Homo sapiens: one gene and its partners. The protein of the gene in region 7 purifies or fractionates together with the protein of the main gene of each other region. This does not show direct contact. Each region holds a gene or a part of one and is shown on either strand. Other genes may lie near its edges.

Evidence for each region.
Region 1: the proteins of PPP2CA (region 7) and PPP2R2D purify together in Homo sapiens (affinity purification with mass spectrometry; 9 studies listed by BioGRID and IntAct, with this or other methods). This does not show direct contact.
Region 2: the proteins of PPP2CA (region 7) and INTS1 purify together in Homo sapiens (affinity purification with mass spectrometry; 5 studies listed by BioGRID and IntAct, with this or other methods). This does not show direct contact.
Region 3: the proteins of PPP2CA (region 7) and PPP2R2B purify together in Homo sapiens (affinity purification with mass spectrometry; 4 studies listed by BioGRID and IntAct, with this or other methods). This does not show direct contact.
Region 4: the proteins of PPP2CA (region 7) and PPFIA3 purify together in Homo sapiens (affinity purification with mass spectrometry; 4 studies listed by BioGRID and IntAct, with this or other methods). This does not show direct contact.
Region 5: the proteins of PPP2CA (region 7) and AXIN1 purify together in Homo sapiens (affinity purification with western blotting; 4 studies listed by BioGRID and IntAct, with this or other methods). This does not show direct contact.
Region 6: the proteins of PPP2CA (region 7) and SLMAP purify together in Homo sapiens (affinity purification with mass spectrometry; 5 studies listed by BioGRID and IntAct, with this or other methods). This does not show direct contact.

What each region holds. Positions count from the first base shown.
Region 1 is NC_000010.11:131,938,528-131,942,712, forward strand, and holds part of PPP2R2D (serine/threonine-protein phosphatase 2A 55 kDa regulatory subunit B delta isoform), read left to right. Parts: exon of another isoform or gene 1-125; intron 126-1,503; coding exon 1,504-1,669; intron 1,670-2,054; coding exon 2,055-2,167; intron 2,168-2,240; exon of another isoform or gene 2,241-2,265; intron 2,266-4,185. UniProt on the Homo sapiens protein: Substrate-recognition subunit of protein phosphatase 2A (PP2A) that plays a key role in cell cycle by controlling mitosis entry and exit. Involved in chromosome clustering during late mitosis by mediating dephosphorylation of MKI67.
Region 2 is NC_000007.14:1,493,975-1,498,159, forward strand, and holds part of INTS1 (integrator complex subunit 1), read right to left. Parts: intron 3,341-4,185; coding exon 3,164-3,340; intron 2,291-3,163; coding exon 2,182-2,290; intron 1,580-2,181; coding exon 1,459-1,579; intron 920-1,458; coding exon 842-919; intron 1-841. UniProt on the Homo sapiens protein: Component of the integrator complex, a multiprotein complex that terminates RNA polymerase II (Pol II) transcription in the promoter-proximal region of genes.
Region 3 is NC_000005.10:146,588,263-146,592,447, reverse strand, and holds part of PPP2R2B (serine/threonine-protein phosphatase 2A 55 kDa regulatory subunit B beta isoform), read left to right. Parts: intron 1-2,221; coding exon 2,222-2,501; 3' UTR 2,502-4,185. UniProt on the Homo sapiens protein: The B regulatory subunit might modulate substrate selectivity and catalytic activity, and might also direct the localization of the catalytic enzyme to a particular subcellular compartment.
Region 4 is NC_000019.10:49,139,733-49,143,917, forward strand, and holds part of PPFIA3 (liprin-alpha-3), read left to right. Parts: coding exon 1-99; intron 100-228; coding exon 229-356; intron 357-1,687; coding exon 1,688-1,781; intron 1,782-2,301; coding exon 2,302-2,383; intron 2,384-3,071; coding exon 3,072-3,272; intron 3,273-4,185. UniProt on the Homo sapiens protein: May regulate the disassembly of focal adhesions. May localize receptor-like tyrosine phosphatases type 2A at specific sites on the plasma membrane, possibly regulating their interaction with the extracellular environment and their association with substrates.
Region 5 is NC_000016.10:286,636-290,712, reverse strand, and holds the end of AXIN1 (axin-1), read left to right. Parts: intron 1-1,105; coding exon 1,106-1,273; intron 1,274-2,464; coding exon 2,465-2,591; 3' UTR 2,592-3,273; downstream 3,274-4,077. Other genes in the region: PDIA2 (protein disulfide-isomerase A2 precursor), read right to left, coding at 3,600-3,644, 3,768-3,878, 3,978-4,077. UniProt on the Homo sapiens protein: Component of the beta-catenin destruction complex required for regulating CTNNB1 levels through phosphorylation and ubiquitination, and modulating Wnt-signaling.
Region 6 is NC_000003.12:57,762,549-57,766,733, reverse strand, and holds part of SLMAP (sarcolemmal membrane-associated protein), read right to left. Parts: intron 1-4,185. UniProt on the Homo sapiens protein: Associates with the striatin-interacting phosphatase and kinase (STRIPAK) core complex, forming the extended (SIKE1:SLMAP)STRIPAK complex.
Region 7 is NC_000005.10:134,202,074-134,205,729, reverse strand, and holds part of PPP2CA (serine/threonine-protein phosphatase 2A catalytic subunit alpha isoform), read left to right. Parts: intron 1-3,656. UniProt on the Homo sapiens protein: Catalytic subunit of protein phosphatase 2A (PP2A), a serine/threonine phosphatase involved in the regulation of a wide variety of enzymes, signal transduction pathways, and cellular events.

The DNA of each region.
Region 1 (4,185 bases), on a different chromosome or scaffold from region 7:
TCAGCCTGCTACTTTCCTCCTGGTCTTTTTCACTCTCCCTCTAGCTTCCCAGAGTTGCTCATGATTTTGAAGATGGCATATGTCTTCCCAAGCATGTTTCTCCACTTCTGTAACAGACTTGTTCTGTACGTACGTAAGCAGCACCTCACTCTGGGCACCTGTGCAGCCTGCTTCACTTGTGCAGCACTGTGCGGTTGTCTGTGCTGGCTCATTTATCTCAGCGGCTTCGTGGTGGTCCCTGCATGGCCCTGTGGCTTACTGTTGCCCTTCGCCTCTGGTTGGCATATGTGTGGCGTCTGGTTCACTACCACTGTGTTGGAGCTGCCACATCGCTGTGTCACGCTCCTCAGGCCCGTGCTGGCTCTCCTCTAGAGCAGACTCAGCAGACACTTTCTCTCCAGGGCCAGATTGCAAACATTTTTGCCTCTATAGCTCATGCGGCCTTTTCACAACCACTCACCTCTACCCAGATGGTGCAGAAGCAGCCAGAGACAGTATGTGCACACATGGGCCTGACTGTGTTCCACTAACACTTGCCTTAAATACGGCAGGCTGCATTCAGCAGACCTGCTCCAGAAAACACGGCAGGCTGCATTCGGCAGACCTGCTCCAGAAAACACGGCAGGCTGCATTCGGCAGACCTGCTCCAGAAAACACGGCAGGCTGCATTCGGCAGACCTGCTCCAGAAAACACGGCAGGCTGCATTCGGCAGACCTGCTCCAGAAAACACGGCAGGCTGCATTCGGCAGACCTGCTCCAGAAAACACGGCAGGCTGCATTCGGCAGACCTGCTCCAGAAAACACGGCAGGCTGCATTCGGCAGACCTGCTCCAGAAAACACGGCAGGCTGCATTCGGCAGACCTGCTCCAGAAAACACGGCAGGCTGCATTCGGCAGACCTGCTCCAGAAAACACGGCAGGCTGCATTCGGCAGACCTGCTCCAGAAAACACGGCAGGCTGCATTCGGCAGACCTGCTCCAGAAAACACGGCAGGCTGCATTCGGCAGACCTGCTCCAGAAAATACGGCAGGCTGTATTTGGCAGACCTGCTCCAGAGAACACGGCAGGCTGCGTTTGGCAGACCTGCTTCAGAAAATACGGCAGGCTGCATTCAGCAGACCTGCTCCAGAAAACACAGCAGGCTACATTCGACAGGCTGAATTCGGCAGACCTGCTCCAGAAAATACGGCAGGCTGCATTCGGCAGGCCTGCTTCAGAAAATACGGCAGGCTGCATTTGACAGACCTGCTCCAGAAAATACAGCAAGGCTGCATTCGGCAGACCTGCTCCAGATGCATACCTAGAAGTGGAGTCGAAGAGTCGGAAATCAAGTTCGTTCTTTTTTTTTTTTTTTTCCCTGAGTTTCATCTGAGATTTTTTTGAGCCAGGATTTTTTAGCTTTAAAAAATATGTATGGTCATTTGATATTCAAATTTATAGTACTGAAATTTTCTCTACACTGTGCTTTGTTCATTAAAACAGCTCTCATGTTTCCTTGCAGAATAAAAGCCGCCCTCATTCTAGGGGAGAATATAATGTTTACAGCACCTTTCAAAGTCATGAACCGGAGTTTGACTATTTGAAAAGTCTAGAAATTGAGGAAAAAATTAATAAAATTAGGTGGTTACCACAACAGAATGCTGCTCATTTTCTACTGTCTACAAATGGTAAGAATTGTGTTCTAAGTGGCTGTTTGATTTAGTTTTTTATTTTTAATTTTCTGTGTGTGTGTAGATTCCTTTTTATTTTAGAAGTTATTCCTGCTTTAAATTTTGGGGGGAGGGTAAGTTATCTAGGGTAGCAAGTGATAGGTTGAAAATTCAAAGTATGCAACAAAAACCACACGTGCACTTTATTATGCTGTTACTCTGCACGTCTGCACATCTTTCTTTATTGTACAAAACACCTCCAATTGGAAATATTCATGTTCAGAGACCCCATAGCTTATAACCCAATATAGGACCACACCGCTTTCTAATACCAGTACTCAAACAGTAGTGATGCATGTTATAGTTTTTCTTTTCATATGGAGAATGAGGTTTTTATTTTCAGATAAAACTATAAAATTATGGAAAATAAGTGAACGGGATAAAAGAGCAGAAGGTTATAACCTGAAAGACGAAGATGGAAGACTTCGAGACCCATTTAGGATCACGGCGCTACGGGTACACGTTGCCTTTGCTTTATCCAATGCTGTTGAGAAGTTAAGAATAAACGTTTCAGTCTGCTGTCTGGAGAGTGCTGCGCGGTGGAGTACTGTGAGGTCTGCTGTGAGGTCTGCCTCGTGATTCCTGAAAGTCGTTTGCACTCATGTGTGTGTTTAAAAGCAAGGTCTTTCTCCTGTTTTCACAAAGGCAGAAAGTCACATGTGGTCCTTAGGAAACACAGCAATACTAAGGGGAAAACTCATATTTAATTCTACAGCAGAAATCTTTGTGGACATAGCAACCACCCTTCTCTCAGAAGGTTCAGAACAGCACCTGGGAGGTTGGAGTTCAGATGAAATTCAGAACACCTCACAGGTGCAGTAGCACAGGTTGCAGGTCGAAAGATGAGCTGTGGGCCACAGGTACATTCAGGACGCTTCTCGGGGAATTTCTTTGGGGTTGGTTTAGGCAGATGCTGATGGTTCAGAACTCTCCACCTGTCCATCCATGAGCATCATTACTTTTTTAATTGTTAAATTATTTGCTCCATTGTTGGTAGTATGAAATGATCATATTTCATCAATTCTGATGCCTAAATTTTTTCATATTTTAACATTTATGAAACCGGCTAAAACTCAAAACCTCAATGTCTTATAATTGGCCTGGTGCTACGCACCACTGATGTTGTCTTAAATTAGATGGAACATGGTGAAGGGTGTCCGGCAAACTGGGCTCGAGCCCAGGTGTGTCTTGGTGAGAAACCAGCACCTGTGCAGAGGTGTGTCCCCTGGAAGGAAACTCTGCCTGGTCCCAAGGGGGTGCCGTTACTAGATTGGAAAACCGTTGGTTGTTTGGGTGGTTGGGTGGTTTGGTTGCGGGGGGTGGGTGGTTGAGTTGGGTGGTTTGGTTGGTTTTTAATGAGATTTCAGCCCCTTTTACACTATTGTTTATCAAGTGAAGACTGAGTGAGTGAGCCCATTCCACATTAGTCTTGGAGAGTGCTACAGAGGACGCTGTACCGCAGAAGCCTTTCCCTAACACATGTGCCTCTGGGAGTGATGTTGGGTCTGTTCTGATGCCATTTCTCCAGCTTTGCCGTGTGGGGTGGCTACACCTGGGGTTGTGCATTCCTCAGGAGGAGTGTCCTCAGACTTCTCACATCGATGTTGTCACCGTATTTCCTATGAGTTCATCAAAGCGAGAAAGGCTGTGGCATTTGCTGAAAATCTAGTTTATAGGGTCCTAATTTGAACCAAGATGTTTTGATCCAAAATGTTGGTGATGTCTGATACACAGTGCTGCCGCCTTTGCACCCCTGAATTAGTGTAAATCACTTTTAGTGACAGTAACACGAGTTGTGCAGTTCCATCATCATGAAACTGCTGATCCTAAAGTAGAAGTGTGATGGGACCCCCGAGGGTGGGCACTTGACCCCCTCCAGCCTTGTCCATCTCTTCTGCAGCCAACACCACCTCCCACCCAGTTACCTGTGCACACCCCACCCTCAGAAACCCCTGTTCCTCCTGATCAGACCCTGCCACAACCCATCAGCTCACGTGCTCATTTTGGGAGAACAGTAGGCCTTTACTAGGCCCAGTCTTGGTTTTATTCAAGGCTGCTTTTGTAGGTTTAGCCTAAATAAAACGGGTATAATTGGTGGCCCTACTGAAGGTGTGTGAGAAGTCTAGTTATTTCATTAGTTGGTGCATGGGGAAGAGACCACAGACAGGTAATTCTGTACATTGACTTAGGTCGGTATTTGAGATCTTACCTCTCTAACAGTTCAGAGTGGGCTATTTATGTATCTGAGCCTAACTGGGTAAGAGTCAGACATGTTGCTGTTTTTAAATTTTTGCTCTTAAATTATTTTAGTGCCAGAAAAGGGATATAATTAAAAGAAGAAATCTTGGCCAGGTATGGTGGCTCATACCTGTAATCCCAGCACTTTGGGAGACCGAGATGGGAGGATCACTTGAGCCCAGGAGTTCAAAGACCAGCCTGGGCAACATAGCCAGACCCCATCTCTAAAAATGAAA
Region 2 (4,185 bases), on a different chromosome or scaffold from region 7:
AGGACAGGCCAGCTTCTCCCTCAGAGCCCACGGGCTGGTGGCAGAGGGCTGCTGCTGCCTCCCACGAGCCTATCCCCTCCAACCTGAGCCTCCCTTTGCAGGACAGGAGCCCTGGCTCTAAGTCTCGCCTGGACAAGGGGAGAAGGGGAGGCTACCCCCACCCCAAGGCCTTTGGGGATACACACACAGTCACTGGTTCCTACAACCACCACACGGAGACTCTGCCACCCCACAGAGGCCTCTAGATGGTTCTTGCCCTCAAGGAGCTGGGGGCCAGGAGACAGAGATAACCCCTACACCTCCAAAGCCTGACCGGAAGGCCGCAGTGAAGGTGAACAGAGCGCCCAGGGCACGAGGTGGGGGCAGGGTGAACTGGCAGGAGCCCCAGGCGGGGCTGGAGGGGAGTGTAGACCAAGAACCCACGGGGTCACCCATGGGGCTTGAAGGGGGACAGAGCTGTGAGGCCAGCCGGCTGGGGAAGGACAGTGTGCGGCTGTCTGGACAGAAGCAGGGGCAGACGGTGCATCTGAGACTGCGTGAAGGGTGGCGTGCCCGTGGACGCCCTGGAAGCAACTGGAAGGCGGGGGTCCGGGGGAGGCTGCGGCTGGGGCTTGGAGTCACGTGGACGCAGACGGCAGCTGAATCCCTACAGTGGCGCTGGGACGCCAGCATGGGAGTGGGAGAAGGGTGGCACCCAGGATTGTGGAGGAGGAGCAGGATGGTGCTGTGACCATGGGAACAGCCGCCCAACTCCCACTGGCCCTTCCTGCCGCAGCCGGCCCGGCACCCCGCAGCCCCGCCCAGCCCGGCACACAGGAGCCCCAGGCGGCAGCGCACTCACTTGCGGTCACTCTCGGGTGGCCAGTTGTCCCACTTGTAGTAGGTCTCCGGCTGCTCTGTGAACAGCACCTTGTGCAGGCTGGGCAGGCAGAGAAGAGCCCTCAGTCATGATGTGGGTGCTCAGGGACCAGCCCCGTTAGTTCCAGGGAAGGGACCCCGCTCCCACGGGCCCCAGCGCTCAGAGGCCGGGCTGCCTGGTGCCCAAGCTCAGCACCTCCTCACAGCACCACCAAAGAACCCAGGGACCACTCACGGGGCTGCCAGGCTGCACAGCGGCCGAACGGGGCTGCCGGGCTGGACAGCCCTTTACAAAATCGCTGCAGAGAAATGCAGCCCCAGCCTGGCAGCCCCACCCCAACCAAGGCAGAGGCTCCACGGGAGGCTCCAATGCACAGGGTGACCTGCCTGGAGCCTAACGGCTGCTGCTGTCCGCAGAGAGGGGACAGACTCCCGTGTGGGGGCCTGGCTTGTCCCGGCTTAGTGGGGTGTGGGGCAGGGGCTGTGCGGGGCCTGGCTTGTCCTGGCTCAGTGGGGTTTGGGGCAGGGGTTGTGCGGGGCCCCGGCTTGTCCCGGCTCAGTGGGGTGTGGGACAGGGGCTGTACAGGGCCCCAGCCGCACCAGTGCACGTAGTCCTTAGGGGCGAGCTTGCTGATGGAGGGGACCACAGTGTGGAGCCACCAGACGGCATCCCGCTGGATGGCGGCAATCTGGTTCTGGAATGAGCGGAGCACTTCCAGGTCTGAAACAGACACGCAGCTTAGTGGCCCATCCGAGCCATGGGCCATGAGGGGCTAAGGCACCCCTGGGGGTCCAACTCAATGCTGGCACTTGGGAGGGGGTAACTCAGGGCACCCCCAGCTTCTGGACGATTCCCAGCTGGAATAACACCCTGGGAGGCATGGAGTGACCCTGACGCGTGCGTGGGTGACTGGAATCCTCCTGTTCCGAGTGACTCGCTCCGGTCAATGGCTTAGAGGGCTTCTGCGGCCCAGCCTTCCTGTGAACCCATAATCAAACACCCGGACTGCCCCAAACACCACCTCCCCTCCCCACTCCCGCCCGTGGCTGGGGCCACCACGCCTGCAATGCCCCCATGCTGGGCCAGAACTGGAGCACACAAAGGACGCTCATGGGAACAGGGTCTGAGCCTGCAGCTGGGGTGAGGCCCGGATGGACAGGAACGGGGACGGCAGCTTCCAGGCTCCGTGTCCCCGAGTAGCCGTGCTGCGGGACCGCTCCTGCCGGGCGCTCAGGGGACAGTGCAGCCTCGGAGAGCCGCCAGCCACCAGCCTGGACCCGAGACCCCCACCAAGCAGGGCCAGGCCACCCCCACATCCTTACTCCTCTTTTCTCCTTTGTCCCAGGCGATGCCGGCCTCCTTCACCTGCGCTGTGATGCCCAGCATCATGGACACGGCCAGGACGTCGGTGATGTGCACCACGAAGCGCTCCTGCAGGTGCAGCACGGGGTCTGTATCCAGAAGGGACACCCGGGAGCCCCACTCCACACCCACGTGGGCGCGGCACGGGGTCTGTATCCAGAAGGGACACCCGGGAGCCCCACTCCACACCCACGTGGGCGCGGCACGGGGTCTGTATCCAGAAGGGACACCCGGGAGCCCCACTCCACACCCACGTGGGCGCGGCACGGGGTCTGTATCCAGAAGGGACACCCGGGAGCCCCACTCCACAAACACGTGGGTGCAGCACGCACACACTTGCACATGCGCACACATACACACACACAAGCAGGGATCCAGAGAGAGAGCCCAGGACCAGTTGGGAGAGGGGCCTGACAGGAGGGGCACCAGGGCCGGTGGCCCACAAGGTCCTAGTCTGGCCACAGGAGGGAGGTTCAGTCAACAGAGATCCACAAAGCCCCGTCCGCAAAACAGGCCACCCCGGCAGGCTGGCTGCGAGTTGGCTGCAGGGACCTGGCATCTCTGTGATCCACCCTCACTGTGCCTTCCAGCGCCAGCTCCCTCCACAGCCCTCGAAAAGTCTCCAACCCAGCCAGGCAGCCCGCAGCCCCACCCTGCCTCCCTGCTCCCGTGCTCCCCTTGCTGCCGGCAGCAATTCATCCCATCCAGCCTAGGGGTTGCCAGTTCCCCTGTGCTTGGTCAGCCCCTCATAGGTCCTCACACAGGACAGAGCCTATGCTACCCTCTGGGACGCGTCACCGCAAACAGCCTCACTCATCCCCGTACCCACGCTCAGCCAGAGCATCCGAAGGGGTGGAGTGTGCATGGGACCCAGGACGAGGGGGATGGCGGCGCGTGGAACCCGCAGTGAGGGAAAGGCGCCCCAGCGGCGAGGGCTGGCACCTTGAACTCCATCTCCAGGTACTGCGGCTCCTTGCGCTCCTGCATGAGCCCCAGGCAGAAGGCCTGGAAGTTGATCTCGTGCTTGGTCTGCTTGATGATCTCCCGCAGCAGGGCCCGCGAGGCCCGCAGGTAGTCGTCCTTGTTGGTCAGCAGGTCCTGGAACACCATGGCCAGGAACTGGGGCAGAGAGAGGCCGCGTGGGAGGCTGCCCGACAGTGCTGTCCCTGTCACAGGCCCCTTCCCGCAGCACCAACAGGTATGGCGCCCGAGGGCGCTGCAGTGGGTCTCAGACAGTGTGGGGTGCGGGGTGGCGGGCTCCTTGCTCTACTGGCTGCCAGCCCTTGGCGAGCAGGGATCACATCTGATTCCCCTCTCTGAGAACCGGCAGGTGGGGAGTCGGTCCTCGTGAAATGAGGAGGATTAATTAACGGAAGCTGGGGGTGCGGGACACCAGGCGGCAAAGCCATAGAAGCGCGTGTGCCATCTCAGCCCACCCGTGCGCCACGGGCTGAACGGAAACCAAAGGCCACCACCCAAGATCTGAAAGGATCTGAAAGGACGCACTCCTGTCTCAAAATGCCAGGCCGCGAAGACTGAACGCGGAGCTGAGAGCGGCTGTGCCTCCCTCGTGTTTCACACTCCATAGAGCCCACCGGGAGGCCTAATGCGCTGGTGGCGATGGGAGCATCTCCCGAGCCCGCTTCAAAGGAGACACGGAAATCCAAGGGTCCTACAGCCAGGGCTACAGGGACCCCTGCTTAACCGAGGGACCCAATGCACAGGAGGCGGGTCTGGGCCAGGCACAGGGGCTCATGCCTGTCATCCCAGCACTTTGGGAGGTTGAGGCAGGAGGATCGCTTGAGCCCAGGAGTTTGAGACCAGCCTGGGCCACATAATAAGACCCGGTCTCCACAAAATTTTTAAAAACTACCTTACTATCCAAAGGCAGGAATGAGCTTGAAAAATAAAAACAGAAGGCAACAGGTCTGGGTCTTAGCTCAGAAACCTGGGTGGCTTTTAAG
Region 3 (4,185 bases), about 12 Mb from region 7:
ATAGTTCATTTTTAGTTTGACAAATACAAATGATTCTCTGATTTCCATGAGAACTAAGTGCAAGCTACCAGGGGCTGATTTCGTTCCTTGATGAAGGTGGCACCAATAATAGTGTTTGAAAGCATAGAAATTCTGTTATGGCAAGACATTCAGAGATTCAAGCTTTCAGTGAATATGAACTGTCTCTCTCTCACACTCCACCTGTTTCTTGGCTTTCTTTGCCACTGATCCAAAATGAATCCCCTCCTTAGCAGGCTTGGAAGGAGTCTCCACGTGGCAAAGGACCCAAGTCACACTGACCAGTTGGTATAGGACAGAGAGCAAAGCAACTGTGACATAAGAACAAAATCCACCATGGGAAAAAGAAGCCAGCCCTCTCATTTTATTATTTATTTATAGGTATTTATTTATTCATATATTATTATTTACATATCTGTTATTATTGCTCAAGTTTTTCCTCTATCTTAGCCTTGATTCAAAAATTACACTTATTAGGCACCTACTATATACCAAACACATTCGTACACATCATTTTATTTAATCCCAACCACAGTCTAACAAGATTGCTTCCATCGTTCTCATTTTACAGTTAAGGAAACTGAGGCTTAGCAAGATAAAGTAATCTGCCCAACCTCATAAAGTAGTAAGTAGTAGAGACAAAAGTAACAAGTTTAGAGTTTGAATCCTAAGATCAACACTCTTTCTATAACATCACAACTGGGAAGTTTAATTTCTCTTTCAGATAAGGTTGGTAGTCTTTTTTTTTTTTTTTTTGGAAAATAATCTCTTACTTGTTTAAAAATAAGTCGGGTCATGGTGGGCAAGCAAACGTCAAAGTATGGGAAGCAGTGAGGCCAACCGGCTGAATACTTATGCCCCAGAGTCAACCATATGTGGGTTTGAGGGTGGACTTTACCACCAATTAGCAATGTGACACTGAGCAAATTACTTCTCTGTAAAACCCTTTTAGGGGATAATAGAAGTTGAAACGAGATCATGGAGGCAAAGCCCTCAGCGCCCTGCCTGACAAGGTGATAACAGTCCACTCGAGTACACAGACACAGTTCACAGTATCAGTTTGATGAGCCAGAGTAACAAAATCTAACCTTTGCTTAATTTACCTGGTACAGGTGACAACGTGCCCAAAAACACATCCCCCTTGCTGTGGCCCAATCTTGTCAGCTTTTTCCTTCACCTCTCTACACATCCCAAATCATTTGAGAAATACACGAGAGTTCCTGCTCTCCCATCTTAAGGAGCCAGTCAGAGCTCCACCCAGAAATGAGTAGGAGCCCCCCACTCCAGGGGAACCACCGTGTGATGGCACTTGGGGTACTTGCCCTGGCCCAAGGAATCTCTCCCTCCCCACCTCAGCTTGTCACCGTGTCTGAAATGTCACCATTAAACATTCAGTACCTTGCCTCTGGAAGACATTGGGTGTTTGCCACTCTCCTGATCGATTGCAGCTATGCCTAAGAGGGGATAACTTATAAAAATGTGGAAACCATCTGTCCATTAAGTGTGGGAAAAAAACCATATAAAATCTTTTTATTTCTCCATCCCAGATTCTTTTAAAATTTGAATTTCCTTACTTGTTTCCTAGATAAGACCATGATGACATCCATTTCGTAGATAAGTTTTCTAAAAAGGCCGAATTCAGAGCTAGTTCTCGGCAGGGGAGAGGTCGCGCCCCGGGTTCGTGCACGATGCCACTAGCATCTCTCCCCTCACTGCACTGATGCCATGAAGCCTTAGAGGCCAGACGGCCCAGGAACCCTGTTGACAGTGGCCAAACCTTAAACACGTACAACTGCTTATTGTTTTCAAAAGTGTGTCTACTTCGACAAACCTCATTCTAGTCTCACATTCCTGATGGGAGGTAGGTAGGACTGGGATCATTAAAACCAGTGGACACCTTTTCTGAGCCAAAGAAGCAAAAAGAATCTATTGAGCAAAAGCAAATTACAAGGAGAGTTCTCACCATCCCTCATTTCCAAACCCAGCCAAAAATCCTATTGCTTTCAGTGATTCAAAAAAAAAAAAAAAAAACACAAAAAAAAAACAAAAAGCCAATAATCACACTGCAGAGCCTGTTCTCATTTTTTGGTTTTTGTTTTTAATAAAACCTATGGTGTCATAAGCTGGCCATAACATGGTATCATTTGCTCCAAAAAGAAAAGACAGTGAAGATATGTCATTGCCTTTGCTCTCTGCCTTGCAGTGTCATCATGACAGGCTCCTACAACAACTTCTTCAGGATGTTCGACAGAAACACCAAGCGTGATGTGACCCTTGAGGCTTCGAGGGAAAACAGCAAGCCCCGGGCTATCCTCAAACCCCGAAAAGTGTGTGTGGGGGGCAAGCGGAGAAAAGACGAGATCAGTGTCGACAGTCTGGACTTTAGCAAAAAGATCTTGCATACAGCTTGGCATCCTTCAGAAAATATTATAGCAGTGGCGGCTACAAATAACCTATATATATTCCAGGACAAGGTTAACTAGGTGGACAAGTTATTACTTAATAATCTCACATACTGAATACTAGTCAAACAAGTTTTTAAATGTTTCTTTGGGTCTTCATTTGATGCATTGACTTTAATTTCCCTATACAGGAAATGATTGGAATAGAATTAAAAGGAGTCCAACATTCCCAGCTCCCCAGTTCTAAGAAACTTTTGTCAAACCCAATAGGTTTGGGACACTTCTGTTTAGAATTGAAAGCTGCCAGCTAACAGTAATTCTTCCATAGTTGACTTGAACTTCTGATGCTTTTATTGCCCAGTTTTCTCTGGTGGGTCCAGTGTTTTGTTCCTAGGTGTCTGCTGCGATAAAATGAGGTTGTCTGTAGTATTTAAGGAGAAAAGAGATAAGTTTTTTTTAATTAAGCAATTCCATTTGATTGAAAAAAATCAACAAAAAATAAACACCGTTTACTCTTAGACAAATTCTTCTTGTTTTGTGAAAAACCAGAACTAGTCAGTATCTCCTGCCCCTCCACCATTTTTTTTTCCATTTTCCATTTTCCTTTGAACAATTTCATTTAAGCCAGAGATTTATTGCATGAAGCTGAGAAGAGGATGCAGAATGACAAGGAAAGGGCACATCAACCCTGCTATGCTCTTTTTTTGTAAGCTCCATAGAAACAGCCTGAGAATTTGGCTAGGGAACTTGAATGCTTCAGGGGACAGAAAGAGAGCACTTTCGACACAGTGCTTCCCAGAGTGAGCTTGGCAGGGCCAGGCGGGGCCAAATTCCATCTGCTGCCTTGTTACTCTTGCTTTTTGTGCTCTTAAATGGCTCCATATAATCTTCTACTTACATGTTCCTTGGCTTTTTTCTCTTCAACCTTTTCCAGCTTATTTATTCCATTGACTTCTAAAGGCCGAGTCCTGGGTGCTTATTATCTGGTGTTCTAAATGAAGCAGTAAGTTGGAAGCAGTGCCACCACCCCTGAGTCCCTGAGAAAGGCTGGTCTGTTCTTTTTGGGTGTTTCTCCTAAGCAGCACCCTCCCCTCCTCCTGGTTTTGGTAACCAAAAGTAACAATCCATCAACCTCCATTGTACCTAGAACAAAAATAGCCAATAAAAACGCTGAGTTGTGAAGTCCAATCAGGCACTTCTAACTCACCCCAAGCTCGCCATCTGGAAAAACAGACCAGAAGGCTCTCTTCTACAGAAATGAACTGTGGGGAAATCAAGCAGCTGTGACATGAAGTGAATGAAGTCCACTTGAAGCTGTGGAAGATGGTTCATCCTTTTCCCCAGTTGAGGATCCAGATTTATAACTTCTAGAAAGCCATTTCCAGAAGGTTCTATGTGGCACACCCCTAGGAAAGGCACTAAATGCATGCAAAGGATTTATAAACTTAGGAAAGTAGATGGGTGGAGTCCAGAAAACTGGTTCTGGGTTAATATCTCTACATCTGTCTTGATGACTCATTTCTCCTAACTCCCATTTAGTGCAGGGTAAATGGTTTGAGATGAGAGTTTTTCAATGAAAGGGAAATTTTCTTTCAGTTTACAGATGTATTAGAAGTCCTGACTTTCAAGTGTAATTTGCTTTGGAGGAGGAAAAAATAGTGAAAGAATCATTTTATCTCAATTCTAAGCTACTATCCATTTACTAATAGCTTTTTGGCAAGGAAATAACTGTCACCTTAGGTAAAAACAGTCTTGTTAGATGCAG
Region 4 (4,185 bases), on a different chromosome or scaffold from region 7:
CCCACCACCCACTCCCCGCTCTGCCCGTCTTGAGAGAATGACCCAGGCCTTGGCACTGCAGGCGGGGTCCCTGGAAGATGGGGGACCCCCACGGGGAAGGTCAGCAGGGACAAGGGATAGGGACAGGGAGAAGCTGGCTTGGGAAGATGAGAAGGGGGTGGACAAGGACTTGGGAGGAGAGGGGGCATCTCAGCAAGCATATGCTCTCATTCTCTCCTGCTTTCCCAGTGAGGGCACCCCAGATTCTCTGCACAAAGCCCCCAAGAAGAAGAGCATCAAGTCATCCATAGGCCGTCTCTTTGGCAAGAAAGAGAAGGGACGAATGGGACCCCCAGGCCGGGACAGCTCTTCTCTGGGTGAGTACCTCACTCTAACCCTTCCCTCCTTTGTTCCTTCCTCCCTTCCTCCCTCCCTTTCTTTCTTCTTTGTATGTTCATTTGACATCCATTCATGTCTTCATTCATTTGGTGATTTATTTAGAATTTGGAAGGAACACAGCTTGCCAAGGTAGGCGGGAGGAGGAGGGAAAAGGAAAGGGCACTCTGGGACCTGCTTGGGTGACTGGGTAGGTAAAGGAATTTATTTCCTTTACTTATTTTTTTGTTGTTTTTTGGTTTTTGTTGTTGTTGTTTTGAGATGGAGTTTCACTCTGTCACCCAGGCTGGAGTGCAGTGGCAACGATCTTGGCTCACTGGAACCTCTACCTCCTGGGTTCAAGCGATTCTCCTGCCTCGGCCTCTTGAGCAGCTGGGACTATAGGCGCCCGCCACTATGCCTGGCTAATTTTTTTGTATTTTTAGTAGAGATAGGGTTTCCTCATGTTGGCCAGGCTGGTCTTGAACTCCTGACCTCAGATGATCCACCCACCTCGGCCTCCCAAAGTGCTGGGATTACAGACTCATTTACCTTTTTTTTTTTTTTTTTTTTTTTTTTTTGTTTGGAGACGGAGTCTTGCTCTGTCGCCCAGGCTGGAGTGCAGTGGTGCTATCTCGGCTCACTGCAAGCTCCGCCTCCCAGGTTCATGCCATTCTCCTGCCTCAGCCTCCCCAGTAGCTGGGACTACAGGCGCCCACCACCACGCCCGGCTAACTTTTTGTATTTTCAGTAGAGATGGGGTTTCACCGTGTTAGCCAGGATGGTCTTGATCTCCTGACCTTGTGATCTGCCTGCCTCAGCCTCCCAAAGTGCTGGGATTACAGGTGTGAGCCACCGTGCCCAGCCACCTATTTTTTAAACAGAGGAAGAGGGTGGGGCATCCTCAAAGCAGGGCACCTTCCTGTGGTGTGCTGGAGCCCGCTGGCACTGGCTCAGGAGATCCGCTATTTCAGGAATTGGCTGACATCACACTGGTAGCTTGAAATTGGCCATGGTGGGATTATTTACACCATGGAAATGGGCAAATGCTACAAATCAGGGATTCCCTTCTGCCTCCCCAAGGAGCCGGTTGTTAGGCATTTACCAGCATACAACTGCCACCTTACCAAGGGCATCCCAGTGCATCCAGCCGTATTTTGGGGATGACTCCAATTCATGGGCGCTTGTCTGCCTTTATCACTTCCTCGATGTGCCCTCACTCACTACTCCCTCAGGGCCTCTGCCTTTCCGGCATTTTCCTCATCACCTCCAGCATGAAAGATTCTGCCTCCCCCTTGAGATTTTCCAAATTTCGACCCCTCCCTGCCTCCAGCTGGAACACCCTCAGATGAGACACTGGCCACTGACCCTCTGGGGCTAGCCAAGCTGACAGGCCCAGGAGACAAGGACCGAAGGAACAAGAGGAAGTGAGTGTGTGTGAGTGTGAGCGTGTGTGTGTGTATGTGAATGTGAGAGTGTGTGAGGGTGTGTGTGTGCGTGTATGTGTGTGTATGAGTGTGTGTGTGTGTGAGAGGGTGTGTGAGTGTGTGTGTGCAGCGGTGGTGGTGGTGAACAGAAATGGGAATTCAATGCTGGGAGGAGGTGTCCGTGATCCTGAACTTGCTTGCCTGGAAACCCAGGAGCTCCTAGAGTTTTTATTTTTTCTTTCTTTTTTTAAAAATTTTTTTTGTATTTTTTACATTTATATTATATTTTTTGTTTCTTTTGTTTTTCTTATTTTGTTCTCTCTTTTGATAGGGGTTGGGGGGAGAGGATTTACAGATTCACATGTATTTTTTGACCTTCTGCCGTGTTTTGTACATTCATAAAAGCTGCGTGTGCGTATGTGCATGTGTGTGTGTGTGTATGTGTGCTGATGGGGGCCATCCACAGAGCAGGGGGTCTCCATCCCTGACAGCTTCTATCCTGGCCCCTTCACCCTTACAGGCATGAACTCCTGGAGGAGGCCTGCCGCCAGGGCCTACCTTTTGCTGCCTGGGACGGGCCCACCGTGGTGTCCTGGCTGGAGGTACTGGGGCCCAGAAATGCCCTGACTGTTGGTCCCCAACCCCTCTGACAGCCCCACTGGTAGGGGCTGCCTGGTCCTCCTGGCGCACCCTGCTTCTAGCCCAGAGGTGGGGGTGGCCATGGGCCTGGCAGGTGAGGACCCAGGAGGGCTCGGGCTTCCTGTTCACCTAAACAGTTTCTTTCTCCTTCTCCTTCTGCCCCTGCCACTCTGGCCTTGCCCACCTGGGTCATGGTCTCCTGTCGTTCTCTCTACTCTCTCTTTCTGGATTCTCTGTCTCTATTTTTCGGCACCATTCCCATCTCTGACCACGCTTTTGTCATTCCCCATATTTCTCCTCATGTCTCCGATCGCCCTGCCGATGTCTCCCTGTCTCCGGCTTCCTGTCTCTCCCCACCCTCTATTTCTCTCTCTCTATTTCTTTCTCTCTCTCTCTCTTTCTCTCTCCCTCTCCCTCTTCCCCCACCCGCCCCCCGCCCCCCGTTTCTCTCCCTATTTGTCTCCCTCGGACTCTCCCTCATCTCGTCCACGTCTCTTTTCCTTGTCCTGTTTCTTCTCCTTGCGAACTTTCCCACGTCTCTGTTTCGCTCCCCACCCCCTTGCCTTTCCCCACCTCCCTGTTCCCCCATCTCTCCGATTTTCTCCTCCTCTGTCCCTCTGTCCCCTCTGTCCCTCTGTCCCTCCGCTGCAGCTGTGGGTGGGCATGCCTGCCTGGTATGTGGCCGCCTGCCGGGCCAATGTCAAGAGCGGTGCCATCATGGCCAACCTGTCAGACACGGAGATCCAGCGCGAGATCGGCATCAGCAACCCGCTGCACCGACTCAAGCTACGCCTCGCCATCCAGGAGATGGTCTCGCTCACCTCGCCCTCAGCCCCCGCCTCCTCCCGCACTGTGAGTGTCCGGCGGCCAATTCCAGCCTTCGCTTCCTCAGAGCCCCGCCTCTTGCCCTCAGTCTAGCCAATCCTGGGCCTGCTCACTCCCCTGTCCCACGACCCTGCTTCTCATTGGCTTTTACCCCCCTCAGCCTCCCCTCCACTCCTAACTTGGCCTGTGGTCCGTCCCTGTGGTACTCCAGGAGGGGCCCAGGCCACCTCCTTCCCTGACTCTCTCCCTCTCCTCGGCATTTGCTGTCCCACTCAAATGTCACCACCTCTAAGAAGCTTTCTTTGTCAGCTAAACGAGTTTCCCCATCATTCCGGCATATCAGCACCTTCTAATTTTCCCCATAGCATTTATTGCCTTCTAATTATTTTATCTTTTCTTTCCTTTTTTTTTGGAGACAGAGTTTCGCTCTTGTTGTCCAGGCTGGAGTGCAATGGCGCTATCTCCGCTCACTGCAACCCCTGCCTCCCGGGTTCAAGCCATTCTCCTGTCTCAGCCTCCTGAGTAGCTGGGATTACAGGCGCCCGCCACCACGCCCAGTTAATTTTTGTATTTTTAGTAGAGACAGGGTTTTGACACGTTGGCCAGACTGGTCTTGAACTCCCGACCTCAGGTGATCCGCCCGCCTCGGCCTCCCAAAGTGTTGAGATTACAGGCGTGAGCCCCTACGCCTGGCCCTCGTTCCAACTTTTGATTACGAGACATTTCAAACATACAGAAAATCATGTGTACCCAGTTCAGCGATTCTCAAACTTTTGCTGTACTTGCTCTGTTGTGTGTGTGGGGTGGAGGCGGGGAGTGGGGAGTACAGGTTGAGTGTCCCTTACTTGAAATACGTGGGACCAGAAGTGTTTAGAATTTCTGATTTTAAAAAGTTTTTTTTGAATATTTGCATATAAATGAAATATCTTGGGGATGGGAG
Region 5 (4,077 bases), on a different chromosome or scaffold from region 7:
CACCTACAATGCTGACTGCTCTGAACCCGTGAGAAAGGGCTCAGACCATGTGATCCCACATGGGCCGTGTCGACGGCGCCTTTATGTGCTCAAGGTGGCAGGAGGAGGGGGCACACCCCAAAAGGGGCCTTGAGAACAAGGGTCCCCCAGGCCTTGCCAGGCTTGCCCCAGATGCAGGTTTGTTGTGGCCCTCATCGTGTAGGCGGTCTTGGGGCAGCCTTCACCTGTCCCTGGGGCAGCCCCCACGTGTTGGCTCTTCTCTGATGGGCCTGGCTCCAGGAGGCTCCGAGGATGTGGCACTGGGAGGACGTCTAAGAGCGCACGTGGCTGGGGGCCTGGTGTGCAAAGAGGATGGTCACATGGCTCAGGTGGCCATGAGGCCTTCCTGCCCTGGTGTTGGCTCTGGAAGCCTCTGGTGCACCCAGCCAGGAGGAGGCCCAAGGGCTGAACCCCAGTGGGCCAGGGGCAGCTTCTGGAGTCACTTGAAGGACAGGTGGCGGCGGGGTAGCCGAGTGGGGGGTGCGAGAGCAACCAGGCCCCGCCCGTCATCCCGGCACGGCTGTGGAAGCACAGCACCTGTCAGAGGAGGGCCCGGCTCAGCCTGGGCAGGAGACGGTGCCAGCCCTGCCCCCTCTGAAGGGCCTGCTGGCCACCCCCGCCCCAGTCCTCCGACAAACTTCGCTGCGGGGTCAGGCTTATCCAGAAATCGTGCACAGTTCTGTTTGTCCAATCCCTGCCCTTCAGATGTTTTTAAGGTTTGGGGGCCGTAGGTCTTCCTGAGATAGGAGCCCTGCAGCCTGCCCTGCCATCCTAGAGGTGGGAGCTGCAGTGCACCTGGCAGCCAGGCCCTGGCCAGTCGAGGGTGGGGCTGTGAGGCAGCAGGGAGACCTTCGTGCTCCCAGTGAGCGGAGCCGACTCCACTGCTAGCGGACTAGATCCCAGATTGAGATGCTGTGCGGGGGCTGCGGGCCCCAGGTGTTTGAATGGGGTGCTGCTCACCCCTGCAGGCCTGCCCCGCCTTACACTGGCAGCCTGAGGCCAGCAGGAGGGACCCTGTGGGACCTCAGTCCAAAACCAGGTACCACCGCTGCATCTCTTTCCCCAGGACAAGATCGCAGAGGAAGGTGGGCGGCGGGAGTGCCCAGCCGTGTGACAGCATCGTTGTGGCGTACTACTTCTGCGGGGAACCCATCCCCTACCGCACCCTGGTGAGGGGCCGCGCTGTCACCCTGGGCCAGTTCAAGGAGCTGCTGACCAAAAAGGGCAGCTACAGGTGAGTGTGAGGGCTGGGGTGCCCCCTCCCCGCACGAGTATGTGGGTGCCCAACGGTATGAAAAAGAGGGTTTCCAGCCGGGCACAGTGGCTCACGTCCTAATCCTGGCACTTTGGGAGGCTGAGGTGGGCGGATTGCCTCAGCTCAGCAGTTCGAGACCAGCCTGGGCAACATGGTGAAACCCCGTCTCTACTAAAAATACTAAAGAAATTAGCCAGGTGTGCTACTTGGGAGGCTGAGGCAGAATTGCTTGAACTCGGGAGGCAGAGGTTGCAGTGAGCTGAGATCACGCCACTGCTCTCCAGCCTGGGTGACAGAGCGAGACTCTGTCTCTACCCCCGCCCAAAAAAAAAAAAAGAAGAAAAAGGGCTTCCGGCCATTTCAGCTCATGTCCCTCATCTGCAACTAAAGCCACTTCTCCAAGCCCTAGGCTGAGGGTGGCATCAGGCTTTCGGCCCCACAGGACTGAGAGGGTCCAAAGGGACCCCCGTCCAGGGCCCTCATCTTCGGGGTGGGAAAACAGAGGCCAGACCCCTAGACGACGATGGTCTGAACCTTGTGTTAGGCTCCCCTAGGCCGACCTTGTCTCCAGGCTCTGGACTCATGTGCTTTTGCCTGACTGAAAAGCCAAGCCCCCTCCTACCAAGGTTCATTCGCCCTGGGCCACTCAGCCCTGCAGGGCCCTGCGTGCAGCCAGCCTTGGAGGCTCCCGAGTGAGCACTGGGCGGTGAGCAGAGGGGGCCTGACCCCAAGAGCCTGGCAGAGCCTGGCGGGTGGTTCCCACCGTCCACAAGCCACTGTGCAAACACCCCATGACTGCAGATGTGGTGCTGAGGGAGGGCCCCAGTTGGGGTCACCTCCATGACGGGGCTCAGCCCTTGGGAAGCAGACACCCCACACCCGTCCACTTCCCCCCTGCAACTCCTGAGAGGCTGGGGCAGGTACTCCCAGGGGGATGTGGGGTGCTCCCAGCAGGCAGTGAACTCACCCCCCATGGCTGCCCACTTCACCCACATGTGGTCATTGCACTGTTCACTGTTGCCCTGGGAGGGGGCGCACATGCAGTGGGGGCCGTGGGGCATGGACAGGAGGCTCCTCGGGATGGGGTGTGGACACGCCGTCCCCTGCCACAGGCCTCCTTCCCATCTGCGGTGCTGCCTGCTCACTGCCCTCCTCACCTCCGTCCTGCAGATACTACTTCAAGAAAGTGAGCGACGAGTTTGACTGTGGGGTGGTGTTTGAGGAGGTTCGAGAGGACGAGGCCGTCCTGCCCGTCTTTGAGGAGAAGATCATCGGCAAAGTGGAGAAGGTGGACTGATAGGCTGGTGGGCTGGCCGCTGTGCCAGGCGAGGCCCTTGGCGGGCACGGGTGTCACGGCCAGGCAGATGACCTCGTACTCAGGAGCCCGATGGGGAACAGTGTTGGGTGTACCACCCATCCCTGTGGTCTACCCGTGTCTAGAGGCAGGTAGGGGGTCCCTCCAAGTGGTCCACAAGCTTCTGTCCTGCCCCCAAGGAGGCAGCCTGGACCACTCCTCATAGCAATACTTGGAGGGCCCAGCCCAAGTGAGGCAGCCGAGGTCCCTGCTGCCAGCTTCAGGTGACCCCCCCCCATCCCCCGGCACCTCCCTTGGGCACGTGTGCTGGGATCTACTTTCCCTCTGGGATTTGCCCACGTACCCAGGTCTGGGTGGGGCCCAGGCCCGGATGCAGAGGCCTGCAGGGCCTCTGTCAATTGTACGCGCCACCGAGTGCCTTCAACACAGCTTGTCTCTTGCCTGCCACTGTGTGAATCGGCGACGGAGCACTGCACCTGCCTCCAGCCGCCGGCTGTGCAGTCCTGGGTCCTCCTTTCTGAGGGCCCGTGTAAATATGTACATTTCTCAGGCTAGGCCAGCAGGGGCTGCCCGAGTCTGTTTTTCATGCGATGACACTTGTACAATTAATTATCTTTTCAAAGGTACTTGGATAATAATGAAATAAAACTGTTTTTGAACCTGCCCTGGCTGTGGTGTGTCTTCTGCGGGTGGGGCCTGGCCTAGGTCTCCCAGCCTCAGCCCCCGTGGTAAAGGAGGGCACACTGGCCTCCAGCAGGCATGGGGATCACCTGTGACTCAGAGGCTGGCAGGGCTAGAGCAGGAACGTGCTCCACCTTCCTGCCCTGGAGCCCCCAGCTGGGCAGAGCTGCATCAGGCCAGCCTTGCTGAGGGACCAGGCACACAGAGTCCAGAACCAAGCTCACTCTTTATTCACAATGCACAGCTCCCTCTGGTACCCAAGGGGGTGGCTCCTGTCCAGCAGTGATGGCGGGGGTGACACGGGGGCAGCTACAGTTCCTCCTTGGACCCCATAGTGGAGTTGGCCGGTGGCTCCTAGAAAGGGTCACAAGTGCAGCTCGAAGCTCTGCTCCCAGCCTACCCCTGCCCCCGCCCCTGCCAGCCCTGTGTAAAGAGGATTTGTGCAGAGGCCTGGAGCCCTGGCTTAGGGACACCCACCGGGAACGGGGCTGCTGGCTCCTCCGGGGGCTCCTCCGTGGGCAGCACGCCCCCGTTGTCCAGGAACTTGGAGAAAGTCTCCAGGTCCCTGGTGCTTTTGTATTCAATCACCTGAGAAGAGGCAGGGGGATCTGGAGGACACGTGGGGCCCAGCCCCATGCCCAGCAAGATGGCACCCCGGCTTCCTCCCCAGCCACCTGTCCGCCATACCTTCCGACCTGGCCCTGCTGGGAAGTACTTGAGAGTAGGGAAGCCGTGCACAGCGAAGGCATCCAGCTCGTTGGCCGTGGCATCCAGCTCAGCAATGATG
Region 6 (4,185 bases), on a different chromosome or scaffold from region 7:
CAGTGAACACTGTCATACAGCTAGTACACAAAGTTTGGGGTGAAGAAAAAACAGTAATAAAAGAGAGAGCTAGAAAAAAAGAAAATAAGATATAGATTTTAATGCTAAAAATTAATGAGGCAACGTCAAAGATTTTTAAGCAAAGGTGTAACTATTTATCTACCTATATAGTGTCAGTAAGAGAAGCATGTACCTGAGAAGAGGAAAGAGTCTGGACTGTAAACTTAGAACGTTTCAGCCGCTAATAAATGCCACCATTTTTCTTGATTCAAGTAACTATGAAGTAACTGACATATATTAAGAGTTAACTTCACAATCTTTTCACTTAAAACTCTAAATGACATTCTCTTCCCTACTTACCAAAAAGAATAAATACTAAGCTCTAGCAGAAATATCACTTAAGAAAACCAGACAGGTAGACTGGGTGTGGTGGCTCACGCCTGTAATCCCAGCACTTTGGGAGGCTGAGGCAGGCGGATCACGAGGTCAGGAAATCGAGACCATCCTGGCTAACACGGTGAAACCCTGTCTCTACTAAAAATACAAAAAAAAAAAAAAAAAAAAAAAATTAGCCGGGTGTGGTGGTAGGCGCCTGTAGTCCCAGCTACTCAGGAGGCTGAGACAGGAGAATGGCGTGAACCCGGGAGGCGGAGCTTACAATGAGCCGAGATCGCGCCACTGTATTCCAGCCTGGGCAACAGAGCAAGACTCCGTCTCAAAAAAAAAAAAAAAAGAAAGAAAATCAGACAGAAGCCTAAAAGGGCAAAGAGTGAATTTAACCTAAGGAGTAATGTCAAAGAACTAAGTGGGAAAAAAAATGCTTTAAGTATATACACTGTCGATATTTTTAACAATTTGAAATCACAGATAAAATATTTTATCAATTTCCCACTATTATGAAAAATAATATAGAGGGAAATGAACATGTGCTTTAAAGATATAATCTGGCTTCCTATACATGTTCACATTATGTGTCTTAAATACAACTTGTCAAGTAAAAGACTTTCTCACAAACACCAGCACCCCTTAATGATCTTTATACTTCTGTCAACAAAAAACTTAAGTATCTGTTAAAACAAACATACAAACAAATAAAAAGTAAAAGAATGTATGACCTGCCATTCTCCCAAAAGCTGAGGCTAGGATCTTTGTGGTCATGTTTAGATGTGTGGAGGAAAAAAGAAGAAACAATCTTGGTTGTCAAATTCAGCAGGCTCTTCACAATGTCTTCCTTACAATGTCCTTGGAACATGCCGTATCATCCCTGCTTCTTCCTCCCACCCAAAACTCCTTTCCCTGACTGACCCTAACTACAATCTATCCCTTAACCCCATATTTTTTTTTAAGATGGGTCTCACTATGTCACCCAGGCTAGAGCAATCATAGTGCACTATAGCCTTGAACTCCTGGCCTAAGTGATCCTCCTGTTTCATCCTCCCAAATAGGTGGGGCTACAGACCTGATGCACCCCTGGCAAATACAAGTTTTTGAACTTTTTGTTTTTTAGAGACAAATTATTGCTATGATGCAAAGGCTGCAGTGCAGTGGATTTTCACAGGTGCAATTTTGGCATACTACAGCCTCAAACTCCTGGCCTCAAGCAATCTTCCAGACTCAGCCTCCCAAGTAGCTGATATTACAGGCATTTGCCACTGTTCCTGGCCATTCTTCCTCTTTTTAAAAGTCCTAAGGTCTAGTTTAAATTGGATTTCATCCATGAAACTGTTTCATCCATTAAACTTTCCCTAAAGTCTTCAGTTCACACAGGACCTTGCGCTTTGCCGAAGTCCTAATGTGCAAGTTAATTTAATACTCTTATCTTTTTTCATTTTCTGGCATTTAATCATTTTCATTCCTACTGTTAACCTGGTCTATGCCCTCACAAAATCACATCATATCTAAAGTGTTATAAAGCCTTTAGAATAGCACAGTGGTTATGAGCTTGAGTTTAAATCTCAATTCTACCATTTAATAGCTAGGTGAACTTGACCAAGATCTCTCTGTGCCTCAATTTCCTCACAGGTCAATGCAGAAAAAACAAGCACCTCAAAGAGTTACTTGAAGATTAAATAAGTTAACAAGTAAAGCATTTAGAATAGGGCCCAGTATATAGTTAGTACAAAAGTGTTATTTAAGCTGTTACCCATTTTTCCTTGCTCCAGGCAACTCTACATACTGCTATTGTATCACTATTGTATCACTCTTTCTTTCTTTTCTTTTCTTTTTTTTTTTGAGATGCAGTCTCCCTCTGTTGCCCATGTTGGAGTGCAAAGATGGGATCTCTGCTCACTGCAACCTCCGCTTCCTGGGTTCAAGTGATTATCCTGCCTCAGCCTCACAAGTAGCTGGGATTTCAGGTTCATGCCACCACACTTGGTTAATTTTTGTATTTTTCGTAGAGGTGGGGTTTCACCATGTTGGCCAGGCTGGTCTCAAACTCCTGACCTCAGGTGATCCACCCATCTCGGCCTCCCAAAGTGCTGGGATTACAGGTGTGAGCCACCGCACCCGGCCCACTCTTTCTTAAACAGGGGTTTGGTATGTCAGTGCTCTGCTCAGAACTCTCGTAGGCCTTCCATAACCCAAGGGTCCACATCCTAAGCTTGGTAAGCAAGGCACTTCACAACCTGGCACCACACTATCTAGTCAGCTTCATTTATTCAACAACTACTTTATACAAGATAGTAGGAAAACGTTCCTGTCTTCCAGAGTGTGAAAATTAATTACAAAGACAAGGCACAAACAAGAACATCACACAGAATAGATGTGCACCCTTGGCTACTCTTCAAAGAACTCTCTAATCCAACAAAGTCAGTTTCCTCAGCATTTGGAAAATGCAAAGCTCATTCAAAATTATCTGCTTTTTATTCCATCCTCATCCCCACAAAAAAAATAAAAATAACCAAAAAAACACCTTTTCTTATCTATCCACCCCTAATTTTAAAGTCAAATGTCATTATTCTTTTGCCATTGAAACTTACATAATATCACCTATCTCAACTATTTTCAAAGTGCACTGTCACCCTCTCTATCCAATGTAAAAGTTCCTAGAAAGAAGAAATAACAAATCCTCATCAGTTTGTCATTTTCTCCCCCTTTACCACTATGCCCTTCACTAAAACAAATCATGATAGAACAGGTGCTCAAAAAGATGCACTAGGCCGGGCGCGGTGGCTCACACCTGTAATCCTAACTCTTTAGGAGGCCGGGGCGGGTGGATTGCCTAAGCTCAGGAGTTCGAGACCAGCTTGTGCAACATGGTGAAACCCCGTTTCTACTAAAATAAAAAACAGTAGCTGGGCGTGGTAGTGTGTGCCTATAATCCCAGCTACTCAGGAAGCTGAGACAAGAGAATTGCTTGAACCCAGGAGGCAGAGGTTGCAGTGAGCCGAGATCACACCATTGCACTCCAGCCTGAGTGACAGAGCGAGACTCCATCTCAAAAAAAAAAAAAAAGATGCACTAAGTTTAAATTAAACGTGAGACTAGAAGTAGACAACTACTACCACTAGTAAGTAAACTTCAGTGAAACTGGAAATAGACTACTATGTCAACCACTAGCATGTCACCGGTACCCCAAAGCCTCAAATCAAATAGGGCCATCCAAATCACAAGAGTTCACTCACTATCCTTTCTATGTAACCACTATATGGGTAGATCTGCTTGCTCAGTGGTGCCTTGAATCAACAGAGGAATTAATAACCATTCTAGGCTGGGCACCGTGGCTCACACTTGTAATCCTAGCACTTTGGGAGGCCGAGGCAGGCAGATCACCTGAGGTCAGGAGTTCATGACCAGCGTGGCCAAATGGTGAAACCCTGTCTCTACTAAAAATACAAAAAATTAGCCAGGCATCTGGGCATGGTGGCTCATGCCTGTAATCCCAGCTACTTGGGAAGCTGAGGCAGAAGAATCACTTGAACCCAGGAGGGAGAGGTTGCAGTGAGCCGAGATTGCGCCACTGCACTCCAGCCTGGGAGACAGGGCAAGACTCCGGCTCAAAAAAAAAAAAAAAAAAAAAAACCATTCTACTATCTGCCATCTAATTTGAAGAGCTTGACTTCCGAAAAGGATGAAGGATAATACACAGGGCCAGCATCCAACAAGGCAATATCCAACTGCTACATTACTGAGAAGATGATTTGGTAAAGATTATGAAACTCTGCTTTGTGCCAAACCTGTCAC
Region 7 (3,656 bases):
ACAAAAGGAGGAGAATGAATGCCTCAGTCAGATTGTTTGAAAAAATAGGCTGGGCGTGATGGCTTATGCCTGTAATCCCAGCACTTTGGGACGCTGAGGTAGGCAGATCACCTGAGGTCAGGAGTTCGAGACCAGCCTGGAGAACATGGTGAAGCCCCATCTCTACTAAAAGTACAAAAAACTAGCCGGGGGTGGTGGCGGGTGCCTGTAATCCCAGCTACTCTGGAGCCTGAGGCAGGAGAATTGCTTGAACCTGGGAGGCGGAGGTTGCAGTGAGCTGAGATTGCGCCACTACACGCCAGCCTGGACAACAGAGCGAGACTGTCTCAAAAAAAAAAAAAGGAAAAGAAAAATGTTAGAGGGCTGGTCAAATAGATATTTTAGTTCAGTAAATTGGGGTATGGAGAGGTAATATAATTAGATTTGTGTTTTTAGATACTTTTGAAGTATTATAAATATATAAACATACCAAATGTCAAAATGTTTTAAATCAGCTGGTCACGGTGGCTCGTGGCTATAATCCCAGCACTTTGGGAGGACAGGACAAAGTGAGCATATTGCTTGAGTCCAAGAGTTTGTGACCAGCCTGGGCAACATAGTGAGACCTTGTCTACAAAAAAATAATAATAATTAACCGAGTGTGGTGGCACAGGCCTGTAGTCCCAGCTACTCAGGCTGAGGTGGGCAGAGTTGCCTGAGCCCAGGAGGTCGTGGCTGCAATGAGACTTGATCTTGCCACCCTACACTCTAACTTGGGGAACAATGAGACCCTGTCTCAAAAAAAAAAAAAAATATCGAGGAAGAAGTTCAAGAAAAAAAAGAATTTTTCTGAGAAATTCAAGAAAACATTTGCTGTAAATATTTAACAGAGAATATTATGTACATTACATACATTATGTATGTACATATGGTTTAGCTCAGTTGAATAGTTTCCAGCCATTAACCATGACAGTAATAATCTAGACTAGGCTGGGTGCAGTGGTTCACGCCTGTTATCTCAACACTTTGGGAGGCTGGGGAAGGCGGGAAGGATCACTTGAGTCCAGGAGTTTAAGAACAGCGTAGTCAACATAAACCCCATCTCTACAAAAAGTTAAAAAAAATAGCCAGGTGCAGTGGTGCATGCTTGTAGTCTCAGCTACTCAGGAAGCTGAGGTGGGAGGATCACTTGAACCTGGGAGGTCAAGGCTACAGTGAGCCATGATGCACCACTGCACTCCAGCCGTGTGACAGAGCAAGACCCCTGTGTCTTTAAAAAACAAAAATCTAGAATGGTAGAAATGATAACCGAAAAAAGCAAGTTCCAAAATTACATGCATTACATGCCAATTGTAGCTTTGCAAAGTGTACTGATGATGATCTGAACATGAAGCAAAAGATGGTAAAGAGCTGTTAGGGTGGCAGGCTTCCGCCTTTCCCTTTAAATAAATTGTTTGACTTTACCTTTACCCAAAAATCTTGGGGAGATTTTTTCCCCCCTAGGCAACAGACTGATTTTTATTATTAAAGAATATTCAAAATGATAAATGGCTGTCACAGACTTTCCTAATATTAGAGAAGCAGTGAGATGTGGTTTTAGCGTGAGCTGAATTTTCTTGATTAATATCTGAATTGTGTAAAGTCCTACGAAATATTTTTGGAGATCGTTATTTTCTGCATCTGTAAAATGAAGGAGTTGGACTAGATGGTGGAAGGTTTCTGCGGTGACTCCAAATACTATGAAAAGAGCTAACCTGTGCTAAAAACCCAGGATGAATCCCAGTGCTCAGAGGAATGAATGTGCTACCTTTAAGAGTATGCAAGCAGCCTGGGCAACCTAGTGAGACCCCATCTCTTCAGAAAACAATTTTAGCCAGACATGGTGACATGTGCTGTAGTCCTAGCCACTCTGGAGGCTGAGGTGGGAGGATTGCTTGAGCCTAGGAATTTCAGGCTGCGGTGAGCTACTCCACTGCATTTGAGCCTGGGCGACAGAGTGAGATCCTATCTGGGGGGAAAAAAACTTACTCATGGAGGTTAATGGGCTGAATTGTAGCCCCCAAAATTCATTTGTCTAAGTCCTAACCCACAGCACCTCAGAATGTGACTGTATTTGGACAGGTAATTAAGGTAAAGTGGGGTCACATGGTTGGACCCTAATCCAGTGTAAGTGGTATCCTTATTAGAGATTAGGACACAGATGGGGAGAAGATAAGACAGATGGAGAAGATGAGCATCCATAAATCAAGGAGAGAGGCCATCAGAAGAAACCAACTGTGCTGACACCTTGATCTTGGACTTCTGCCTCTGGAACAGTGAGGAAGTAAATTTCTGTTGTTTAAGCCACCTATTCTCTGATGCTTTGTTGTGGCAGCCTTAGCAAAAGAATACCGGGGGAAAGGATGTTTCTTTCAGTAAATGGTGCTGAAGCAAATGGATCAGAATGTATCATAGAACTAAATGTAAGAGCTAAAGCTACAAAACTTCTAGAATAAATCAGAAAATCTTTGTCAGGTTAGTTAAAGATTCTTAGATATAACAAAAGCACAGTCCATAAAAAATTGAAAAATCGGACTTTATCAAAATTAAGATTATGTTTTTTCAAAAGATGACACCAGAAAAAAAGTACTTGTATTCAGATATTTAAAAAAAAAAAACTTTTACAGCTCAATAACAAGACAGATAATTGTAAAATGGGCAAAATATTTGAATAGATATTTTACCCAAGAAGATGATACATGAGTGGTCAGTGAGCACATGAAAAGATGCTTGATATCAATTGTAATCAGGGAAATGCAAATTAAAGTAACTGAGTTACTACTTCACATCTATTAGAATGGCTGTAATCAGTAAGGTTGATAATACCAAGTGTTGGTTAATACCGGAGATTAAACTCTTCATGCATTGCTGGTGGGAATATAACATGGTCTAGCTACTTTGAAAAACAGTTTGACTGTTTCTCAAAAAGTTAAACGTTACCAGGTGATCCAACAATTATATTCTTAGGAATCTTCCTAAAAGAAATGAAAGCATATGTCCACAGAAAAACTTCCATGTATATGATTATAGCAACATTATTCATAGTAGCCAAAAACCTCAGTAACATAATTGCCAGTTCATCTTAACTGTGAATAGAGAAACAAAAAATGGTATAGCCATACAGTGAAGGACTGTGCAACTATGAAAAGGAACAAACCACTGATCTATGCCAGAACATGGGTGAGCCTCAAAAATATTCTAAGTGATATTTAGCCAAAAGACTACATTTTGTATTCCATTTATATGACATTTCTAGAAAAGACAAACTCAAGACAGTAAATCAGTGGTTGCCAGGAGCTGGAGTGGGAGTGGAGAGTGACTGCAGGAGGGATCTTTTTGGGATAATGGAAAGGTTCTAAAACTGGATTGTGGTGATTGTTGCATAACTATAAATTTGTGAAAAATTACTGAACCGTAAAGTAATTTATGGGGTTTTAATAGCCCATTGATTTATGTTTGGTATAAAGTTGGTGGTAGAGGGAGTTTGATTTTAGTTGAGATGAGGTGGGCAAACACCCCATGGGCATTTAAAAATTCTGTAGAGCTGTGGTTTTGGTTCACTATGATATGAGGATGTGTGCTGTTTTTTCAACAAAATTGTAACTGCATTTTTTTCTATAGAAAGTTTCTTGAATTTT